Regions from separate parts of the Homo sapiens genome. Here region 1 is linked to region 2. The links come from fine-mapping of genetic effects on gene expression. A gene starts in region 2. The other region holds a variant in brackets. All regions are shown on one strand. Distances are from middle to middle.

Region 1 (5,375 bases), 27 kb after region 2:
ACCATTCCATTGAGACACTCTGCAATAAAAGACTCCACGCCCATTACATCTTTTCTTTTTGGAGCACATATTAGAGTTTCTAAGAAGTTCAGTAGCAAGGAAAACCTGTTAGCTTCCTTGAATCCAACATTTCCTGCAGAGGCCCCCATTCCTGCACCTAGCACTGTGCATGCACTTGGGGCCTGAAAATAGGTGCACCAGCCATGAGAGTTCTTGTCATCCTGGCTTCTGCCCTGCACCAAGAAGCTCTGATAATGTGTTAGTTGGCCATGGGAGTGCTGTCCAGAAGGTGACTGCTGGAAAGGACTCAGAAGCAAGGAGTCCAAGGCCTTTGCTTCCAAATGAAAAGATTGAGGCTCAGAGAGGAGGGGTGACTCCTCCAGGGTCTTATAGCATGTGAATGCCTGAGCTAGGAATGAAGCCCTGCATCCCAAGTCCGGAGCTCCCTCCACTTCCCCACACTGTCTTCGAGGATGCCTTCCAGGCATGTCACACTGCCGGGGCACCCGGAGAGAACACACAGGCTGTGGAATAGAAATGTGTAGTCAGGCCAGGCCAGGCCAGGGAAGCAGTATTTCCATCCTTGGACAAGGCTGAATTTATTTTAGAGATGAGGAAAAGCAGTTAGATAAAGAAAACCTGCAACTGGGGGTTGAAGAGATTCAGCCTGGAAATCCAGCTACTGGATCCACTTTTTGAAGGAGGTGGGATTTAGGAGCTGTTGCTTCACATTTGGGTAGGAAGGTACCTTTTCTGGTTGGTATCCTTCTGTGGAAAGGAGTAGGAGACACAGGTGGGGAGGCTCAGTGCCCAACCCAGTTTAGGGGGCTCGCCCTATGGGACTGTGCCAGGCCAGTCATGGGGCAGCTGCTTCACCCTGGGCAAAGTCTTTATCAATGAATTCCTTCTTTCACTCATTCAACCAGTATTCATTAAGTGTTTATTTTCTGTCTGGAACTGGGCTAAATTCTGGAGACGAATTGGTGAGCAAGAAATCAGATGTTGACCCCACCCTCATTTTAGTAAGGGAGTCAACAAAAAAAGTAAGCAAACCAAATGAACACAATAATTTTAAGCTGTGGGAAGTATATAAAGAAATGAAACTAGAGGCTGAGTTGGATGGATGCCAGGACTGGTTAATGGACTGGATGGAGGTGGGGAGGTTAAGGGAAAGGGGAGATTCAACCAGGATGCCCAGTTTCCCAGTATGACCACTTGGGTGGTTGGTGGTGCCATTTACTGAGGTGAGTGGAGGGGTGGGAGGGCGAGATGGGTGTGGAGAGAAACTTCAGCTGTGCTTTAGAAAAGCAGGAGCTGCTCACGAGATAGCCACATGAGACATCCAGGAGAGATGTGAGCCTGTAGATTCAGAAGGGGGCCCCGTCAGGGCTAGACACTCGCATCTGGACATCATCAGCTTAAGGGTGGATTTTAAAGCCATGGAAACTAATGAGTTTTTCCAGAGAGAGGGTGGAGAAGAGGGCCCATGCTGAGAACCAAAGCAGACTTGAATGTAGAGTCAGGGACAGGAGTGCAATCAACCAGATGGTGGAGCCTAGGCCACGTTCTTCAGAGTGCCCCCACCCAAGCAGTCATGGGGGTTCTAAATTGGCTCCAAGGAAAGCCCAGAGCAGGCCTGGCCTTCCTGGGTACTATGCACACTGGTTTCAAGTCTCATGTTCAGACTGTGACCTCTGTCCTTTGCTGTTCCTCCCTGGACCTGTGCTCGCTGGCACTTGTTTCTCCTGTGGGGTTTACAGGAACCCCTGCTACCTAAGTAACAACTAGTGGTGAGGTGGTGGGATGGGGCTCCATGCAGCTTCTTAAAGGACAGCCTGGTACAGGAGGAGTGGGGTGGAGAGGCTATTTCTTGGAGATGTCATTGTTCCAGAGGAATGGCCAGGGCAGGTTACCTTGGTGCCAGGACCTAGGACCCAAGGAGTTAACTCCATGCTTGGCTGGATATTCTCAGCCCAGCACTGACTGTTTCTTTCTTTCTTTATTTTTTGAGATGGAGTCTCCCTATGTCACTCAGGCTGTAGTGCAGTGGCACTATCTTGGCTCACTGCAACTTCTCCCTCCTGGGCTCAAGTGATTCTTGTGCCTCAACCTCCTGAGTAGCTGAGATTATAGGTGCAAGCCACCAAGCCCAGCTAATTTTTGCATTTTTAGTAGAGATTGCCATGCTGGCCAGGGTGGTTTCTAACTCCTGACCTCAGGTGATCCGCCCGCCTCTGCCTCGCAAAGTGCTGGGATTACAGGCATGAGCCACCGCGCCCTGCCAGGCCCTGACTGTTTCTAATCCAGGCTGAAAACCCCTTGCAGGGAACTTCACCTGCTTCTCAGTGCTCCTTCTTTTCCTTTGCCTTAGCATTTGCATAGTTTTTTTGCACAATTCTATGTTGACTTTTCAAGAG[C/T]TCTTAAGTCACTGGGCTTGAGTTTGCTTTCTTGTACTTGACTAGACTTTTCATTCTTCTAGTACATAGTGAGTCCTGTGTTGTCCATGCTTTTCCTGTCCTCTAAGGCATACTTTTGCCCACAAAGAGCTCACAGTGATTGTTGAATAATGCCTACTTGTGAGCCTGGATCCTAAACTGGGATTTGGGGTCTTTGGCCAATGGTCAAGAATTTCTTTGCTCTCTCTTCCACATCTCTCTTTCCTGGGTGTGGAGAGGTATATCCACTTGCAATGAAAAAGAGGAATCAACTTCTTTTTTTTTCTTTCTTTCTTTATTATTATTATACTTTAAGTTTTAGGGTACATGTGCACAATGTGCAGGTTAGTTACATATGTATACATGTGCCATGCTGGTGCGCTGCACCCACTAACACGTCATCTGGCATTAGGTATATCTCCTAATGCTATCCCTCCCTCCTTCCCCTACCCCACAACAGTCCCCAGAGTGTGATGTTCCCCTTCCTGTGTCCATGTGTTCTCATTGTTCAATTCCCACCTATGAGTGAGAATATGCGGTGTTTGGTTTTTTGTTCTTGCTATAGTTTACTGAGAATGATGATTTCCAATTTCATCCATGTCCCTACAAAGGACATGAACTCATCATTTTTTATGGCTGCATAGTATTCCATGGTGTATATGTGCCACATTTTCTTAATCCAGTCTATCATTGTTGGACATAGAGGAACCAACTTCTACCCTACGCCTCTATCTATCTATCTATCTATCTATCTATCTATCTATCTATCTATCTATCATCATCTATCCCCTCCAACCACCCCCACACTGTCTTCCCCAGAAGAAATGCTCAAAAGAGTGTTTTCCTGTTCTAAGAGCTTGCGGACTCACTGGTTCACTTCCCATTAGGAAGACCAAGTTGTGTTTTTAGATTTCAGGTTTTCCTTCTATATCTTTGTGAGAATACAGGCTACATGTCAGAGCAAGTATCAGTGGTAACAGTGTCACACCTATGAAAGGCTCAGTTAAGGAAATCAGAGGGTTGTTTTCCACAAGAATTTGAAAGTAGTTCAGCGCTTGCCTATGGATAATCTAGACTTGACTGCTGATGATCAAGTTTTGCATGTAACGTTTTGTGTAATTTGCAGGTAAATCTCTACATGACTCTTCTCTGTTTTGCCTAGAACTGGGTGGAGTGTTTGTTAGCCAAGCATCAGAGATCTCACTTTCTGGGATTTGGACTGCCTCTTCTCTCTGCCTTCTCAGCACTTCAGCCCATGTGTATTCTCCCTCTATGCAAAGACAAAGACAAAGACAAAAAGTGTGGGAACCTTGAGATAATCTTGGGATGACCGAGAAAAACTCACTTAAGTTCTGAAAATGCTTCTTCACACATTTTATCTGAATCTTCACTACATCCTTCACAAGCCCTTCTGGCATACACATTGTCTAACACACATCTCTGTTGTGCCTAAGATAGAGCTAATCCCCATCAACACTTCCAGTCCAGGCTGAAGGCTGAAGGTGACTTGGCTCTCCTAGGGAACCATTGATGGAGGTGTGCTGGGAGAATCTGATACTTTTGGAATCTGTGGTGATGAGACTGAATGGTGACAGCTCCGTCAACCACTGGAGAAGACGGTGGCAGGAGAAGGTGACTCTAGGTGGAACTAATGCTGTGACTCTCAGTGGGGGCAATTTTGCTCCCCAGGGAACATATAGCAATGTCTAGTGACATTTTTGGTTGTCACAAGTCGGGGAGTGCTACTGGCATCTAGAGAGTAGAAGCCAGGTTGCTACTAAACATCCCACATCACACAAGCCAGCCCCCTTCAACATATAAACAGCCAGCCTCAAATGTCCACAGTGCCACTGCAGAGAAAGCTGTGCCAAACAAGAGGTCGTCTCATTCATTTCTCTCCTTGGGAGAAGATCTTTAGTTACAGTGATATGGGTTATAGTTGAACTGGATAGAGATCCTTGTGGATTTGAGGGAAGTATGTATTTGTAGAAGTTTTTTTTTTTTTTTTTTATGAGATGGAGTCTCGCTCTGCCACCAGGCTGGAGTGCAGTGGCATGATCTCAGCTCACTGCAACCTCCACCTCATGGGTTTAAGTGATTCTCCTGCCTCAGCCTCCCGAGTAGCTGGGACTACAGGTGCATGCCACCATGCCTGGCTAATTTTTTTTTTTTTTGTATTTTAGTAGAGACCGGCTTTCACCATGTTGCCCAGGCTGGTCTCGAACTCCTGAGTCAGGCAATCTGCCCGCTTCGGCCTCCCAAAGTGCTAGGATTACAGGCATGAGCCACCATGCCTGGCCGAAGTTTGTTTATTTTAAAACGGAAATGCCCTTTTATTCTGGATGAAGACATAGGAAAAAAGCCAAGGAAACAGTGTGGCCTTATGTGGAGACTTTCAAGACCTGTGCAAATGGCCTACAAGGTGCCTGCAGTTCTGGTATCAACCTGGCTTTCTCACGCCTCTGTGCCTTTGATGCTCTGTTCTCTGTCAGGAATGCTCATCCCGCCTTCACCCACTTGCCCTGCCTCACTCATCACTGAGGATTACCCAGGCACTGCCTTCTGAAAACCTTCCTAGACCCTCCATGGCACTGAGCATCTGTCTGGACTCCCATGGGACTTTGTCTATCCCTTTTTATCATGTGCCGTATTATATTAAAATGACTAGTTTCAGTGCCTGTTCTCCACATTAAGATAGAAGTTACTCGAAGGGATGGCTCTGCCTGATTCATCTTTGTGCTCCTCAGTGACCAGCAAAATGCCTGGCACATAGCAGGCACTGTGAGCTTCACTAAGCTAATGAGATTTTGAAAAGGGTAGGGTAGACTCTTAAAGATAATTACTGCCCTGACATATTTAACAAAAACAACTGGATTAAACAACTAACTTTTGTGACTAGTGCAAGTCATATTCTGGGCATTTTGCATATGTCATCTCATT
Region 2 (5,375 bases):
GAGCCTCTAAGTAGACTAGTTGATCAAATGTAGGTAAAGCATCCAGCACAGAGCTTGGCACGAAGTCGGCGCTTGGTGAATCTGGGCAGAAAGGATCAGTGAAAGTCCAACCCCTTCCTTCTAGGAGATGGTTCTGGCTCTAGAATGCTCACCTACTGCAGGTGGACTGACCCATGACGCGGGCATTCTCCTGTGATGGGGCCTGGGGCCTCCAGTCCTCATGGCCACAGCCCCTCCACCCCCTCTCCACTTACTTAGAGGCCATCTTGGCAGAGACAGACCCGAGGTAGGGGAGGGAGGGGTTGGGGGAATGGGGACAAGGGAGGAAGTGGCTGGAGAAGGAGCTGGCTGAACTCCCAGCCAGCCTGGCCTTCCCTGCAGCCCTGCGTCTGGGGTGGGATCTCCTGACCACTCTGTCCTCAGCACTGGCCCCTGCCCTCTCTCTGTGCATGGAGGCAGCCGTTCACTCTCTCCCTGGCCAGCTTTCATTCAGCTAGGGGCAGCTTGGGTCTGTGGGATTATCCAGGTGCTGGTGACTGCTCTTCCTCAGACCTGGGGTCATTTCATCTATGAGGAATTGAGGAAAGGAGGGAGAACAAACACACCAGATTTCTCCCTGTAAATGGCAATGGCAAAGCCTGGGAAAGAAGAGAATGAATGCCTGCTGACCTCCTATATGCCAGGCACCATGGGGACATTGTCTAATTCCTTGTGAGGCAGGTGTCCCATTTGGTAGATGAGAAGATGGATTGGATGGTGTATTAGGCCATTATTACGCTGCTGATAAAGACATACCTGAGTCTGAGCAATTTACAAAAGAAAGAGATTTATTGGACTTAACAGTTCCATGTGGCTGGGGAGGCCTCGCAATCATGGCAGAAAGCAAAAGGCACTTGTTACATGGTGGTGGCAAGAGAGAGAATGAAAGCCAAGCAAAATGGGTTTTTCCTTATTAAACATCAGATCTCGTGAGACTTATTCACTACCACAAGAACAGTATGGGGGAAACCGCCCCCATAATTCAATCATCTCCCACCGGGGCCCTCCCACAATGTGTGGGAAATATGGGAGTACAATTCAAGATGAGATTTGGGTGGGGACACAGAGCCAAACCATATTGGATGGGTTTAGAGTGCTTAGTTGGCCCACCCAAGGTTATACAGCTAGTTAGTGGCAACAGGAGGGATTTGAACACAGATCTGTTACTGTTCAGTTGGGAAGAATTTAAGTTATGGCTTAAAACTAGGATTTTGCATTTAAAAACATTGCTCTGAGAAGGGATCCATAGGTTTCATCATTCTGCCAAAGGGATCCCCAGCAGCAAAAAAGTTATGAACTCCTGCCCTGAATTCTGCACCATTACAGAAAACCAGAACACACCTAGCAAACAACTGGACAGCAAATGGAGCAGCAGAGTGCACACCACCAGACCCCGCTGGAGAACGCCCATCTAGAATTGTGCAAGCACAGATTGAAGGGAGGCCTGCGGGGCAGCATGGGTACCCAGGGCTGAGAAAGACAGTCACGGTTTTCTTTGGGGAGGTGTTTTGTCTTCCCCCATCTCCTTAGTACCTAGCTCCATGCCTGGCAGTTTCTCAGTAGCTGTTGGCCAAGTTGAAGTGAATCTGGATCTAGGTTGGAAGGCTAAGGCTGGAATACAGAATATTTCCCCTTTTTATAGGTACATGGAGCCAAGAACATGTGGAGGAATAAGAATGCTAAGAATGACAAATATACATGTGGCTTTTGACAGTTTACAGAGCACTCCATTAATCACTAGCTCACTCTATCCTGAGAAGTGGCAAGGCAAATATTTGTATTACTTCCAATTTACAGGGAAAGCAACTGGGCCTCAGAGGGTGACTTGCTCCGGTTTGCAGAGCTAGGAGGTGGCAGGCTGTGCGCTCAAACTCAGGCTGTCTAACTCCACATTCTGTGGGGTGAGAGGATGGGTGATGGGGTGTCTTTTCTGGAGGAGGGAGGTGCTGTGAGCCTAGCGAGATGGAGGTACAGTGGGTGTGGGCCTGGAGCGCTGGGCCCAGGCAGGGGCTTCTGATTAGGAAGCCCTGGGGCACCAGTTCAGGTTCTCCCAGAGAGTAGTGTGATGGGATCCAGTAACCTGTGCCCTCCAGATGACTTCTGTAGGTGTGTTTAGTGACATGCTCAACGGGTGCGGGAAGGATGGGCTTGTGCCAAGGGCCAAGCCCAGAGATGTTTCAGATTTTTCCCTTTATGCCCCTGCAACCAAGCCCTGCTGCTCCAGGACATATAAGAGACGAAGGCTGAGGGCTCCAGCACTCACCGGCCTGGGCCCTGTCACTTCTCTGATAGCTCCCAGCTCGCTCTCTGCAGCCATGATTGCCAGACAGCAGTGTGTCCGAGGCGGGCCCCGGGGCTTCAGCTGTGGCTCGGCCATTGTAGGCGGTGGCAAGAGAGGTGCCTTCAGCTCAGTCTCCATGTCTGGAGGTGCTGGCCGATGCTCTTCTGGGGGATTTGGCAGCAGAAGCCTCTACAACCTCAGGGGGAACAAAAGCATCTCCATGAGTGTGGCTGGGTCACGACAAGGTGCCTGCTTTGGGGGTGCTGGAGGCTTTGGCACTGGTGGCTTTGGTGGTGGATTTGGGGGCTCCTTCAGTGGTAAGGGTGGCCCTGGCTTCCCCGTCTGCCCCGCTGGGGGAATTCAGGAGGTCACCATCAACCAGAGCTTGCTCACCCCCCTCCACGTGGAGATTGACCCTGAGATCCAGAAAGTCCGGACGGAAGAGCGCGAACAGATCAAGCTCCTCAACAACAAGTTTGCCTCCTTCATCGACAAGGTGAGCTGTGTCCTCGGCTGGAGAGGGGCAGTTAGAAGAGAGGGGTCCTGAGTCCTGGGGTCTCAGACCTGAGCCTGCCACAGGTGCTGGGGAGACCACTGAACTTCCCTGGGCCCCAATTCTCCAGCTGTTGAAGGGGCATCATGACTTTGAGCCTTCCTTTTTGTCCCGTGGCTGGTGGGAAGGTGGGATGCTCAAGGCAGTTAAGTGTTTGGAATTCCCTAGACAGGCTGTGGGATACTGGACAAATCATTTGGCTTTTCTGGCTCTAGTCATCCCAGCTATAAAGGGGGTTCATTATTTCTCTGCTTTTTCTCAGATTTTGGTTTTGAATATAATGCAGTTAACCCCATTAATCACTTAACAGTGGCCACTTCTGTTCTTAGAACAGAAGACAACTAAGCTGATTTTGCAAATGAAAAAGGGACTGGCTCCAGTGGCAGATTCTAGGTCTCACCAAGGCCTTGGAAATTTACTTTTTTCATTCCTTTGACTGGACAACACTGCTCATGTCTGGGTCTGTTTGAAGAAAGGAGACAGGTCTCTTTTCTTTTTGTAGCCCAACTTCCTTTTTCATGCAACGTCTAGAAGTTCAAGTTCTTTAAGCTCAGTTATGGTCATGCATGATGGATGATAGTGAGCAGTGCAGCCCCAGAGAGCCGAGTCATCCAAAGATTGATGACTGGGTGGATGAGTGCCTCCCTTTGGTCCAGGTTGCCCTGGTTCACCAGGCATCAAAGTCTTGGGCAGCTTCGACATATGGGGCAAGAATGAACACTTTTGGAATAGAATAAGGTGCATATTTGTTCTTCTTGCTAGTTTGAATAAACCCATAGTAACTTAAAGAGGTTTTACTGTGACTATAGGACATGCAGATGTGATAGCAAAAACTCAGGGCTCTTTGATGCATCCTTGTCTCATCTCATCTCATTTTACCTTTTGGGTTCAAAATGTGATCGGTCTGCCTTACCTGCTTTCCTTTCAATTCTGAGGCTCATAACATGGAAATGTCATGCTAAGCTGCTGTCCTGGTTTGTCTGGCTAGATTTTTTCATAGAGAGAGGGAAAGTTCAGGAAAGTCCTTTGCAGAATGGAGTTTAGGTGAGACAATGCGTACAGGGCCCTTGTTTTAAATATCTATACTCAGTTGTTCACAGGTTCACAGGGACACGCCAGATCCATTGATAAGTAAGCTTATTTAAAAAGTCTGTAGTGACTTTGTCTTTCATTTGCCTTGGGTCAGGATCACTTTGAATGCAAGAGCCTCCAGATTGTGATGTCTCTTAATTTTATTTTGTTATTTCATAGAAGTTTAATGTTCTTTGGGGCTTTGGGTGCCTGCGGCTAGGAAGTTGTTCTTGTTGCACTGTTAGGCCCTGCTTCTCTGGCTGTGCTCTATTCTCCACAACCTATGTGACCCCTTGGTGCTATGGGCTCGAGAATGGGGCCATCATGTCAACCCGAGTGAATGGTGCCCTGGAGATGCAACATAGTGGCCCTACTTGGGTGGTTCTTGGGCCGTGTAGTTCCCTGGGATTGACTGGGTTGGTGTTGCCTTGGCTGGCCCTCCTGCCACACTTCAGGCCCTCATCACTTGGCTGGTGCCTTTATCAACACAGGTGCAGTTCTTAGAGCAACAGAATAAGGTCCTGGAGACCAAATGGAACCTGCTCCAGCAGCAGACGACCACCACCTCCAGCAAAAACCTTGAGCCCCTCTTTGAGACCTACCTCAGTGTCCTGAGGAAGCAGCTAGATACCTTGGGCAATGACAAAGGGCGCCTGCAGTCTGAGCTGAAGACCATGCAGGACAGCGTGGAGGACTTCAAGACTAAGTACATGGGGAGGAAGGAGGGGACGCCATCTGACACATGTGCCCAGCCACACCCAGGCTCCCGGGGCTCTCTCCAGTGGCTTAGAATCTCAGGCTCTGAAGGCGTCTAGGAAGGCCCTCTAGTCTGTTTTGCTACATCCACATAGTCACGTTTTCTCAGGGTGAGGTCTGGTAACCACAGATTTTTCCGAAAGGAAATTTAATGATAGATTCAGGGATTTGGGTCTGCCATATACGAACAAGATCAGAACCCAAATAGATGAAAAGCAGTATAGTATGATTAGAAGAATACAGACTGTAGAGACAGATGGAGGTGGTTTGCATACTGAGTCCTCACTTACTAGCTGTGTGACCTTGGGTAAATAGCTGAACCTCTCTGAGCTTCAGTTTTATTCATCTTTGAAATGGGGATAATATTCCTACTTTATGGGTTGTGAGAATTAAATGGAATTAAATGAAATAGAGAAAGCATGTGGCATATTTCAGGACACAGAGTGAACACTGAATACACAGCACCTCTCATTAAACTCACTATGGGATAGGACTGACAAAATAAATACCAACCCTGTCTCTCAATTCACTCACCCACCAAACAAAGGGAAATGGAGTGTGCTGATGACATTGCTGAGAATTTAATCTGCCAAAATGGCCAAAAGGACAGCCCTTTCAGGGACATTAAATCAACTACATCATTGCTGGGTTTTCTATCGAAAACAGTCTCTTTAA

Evidence for each region. PIP is the estimated chance that this variant, and not a neighbour inherited with it, causes the effect. A credible set is the group of variants that fine-mapping cannot tell apart.
Region 1: its variant is the best candidate, but not a certain one, in a credible set for the expression of KRT4 in lung (TOPMed, PIP 0.60).

Annotation. Positions count from the first base shown.
Region 1 is chr12:52,783,811-52,789,185 of GRCh38, reverse strand. No RefSeq gene overlaps it. Among named protein-coding and RNA genes, the nearest start is that of KRT76, 9.2 kb to the right of the region's middle. The variant C/T (reference allele first, on the strand shown) is at 2,418.
Region 2 is chr12:52,811,038-52,816,412 of GRCh38, reverse strand. It overlaps KRT4 (keratin 4), which reads left to right and starts at 2,297. Exons shown (of 9, transcript NM_002272.4): 1 at 2,297-2,816; 2 at 4,436-4,650. The coding sequence starts at 2,355. RefSeq lists an enhancer at 2,725-3,226 and a silencer at 3,392-3,592.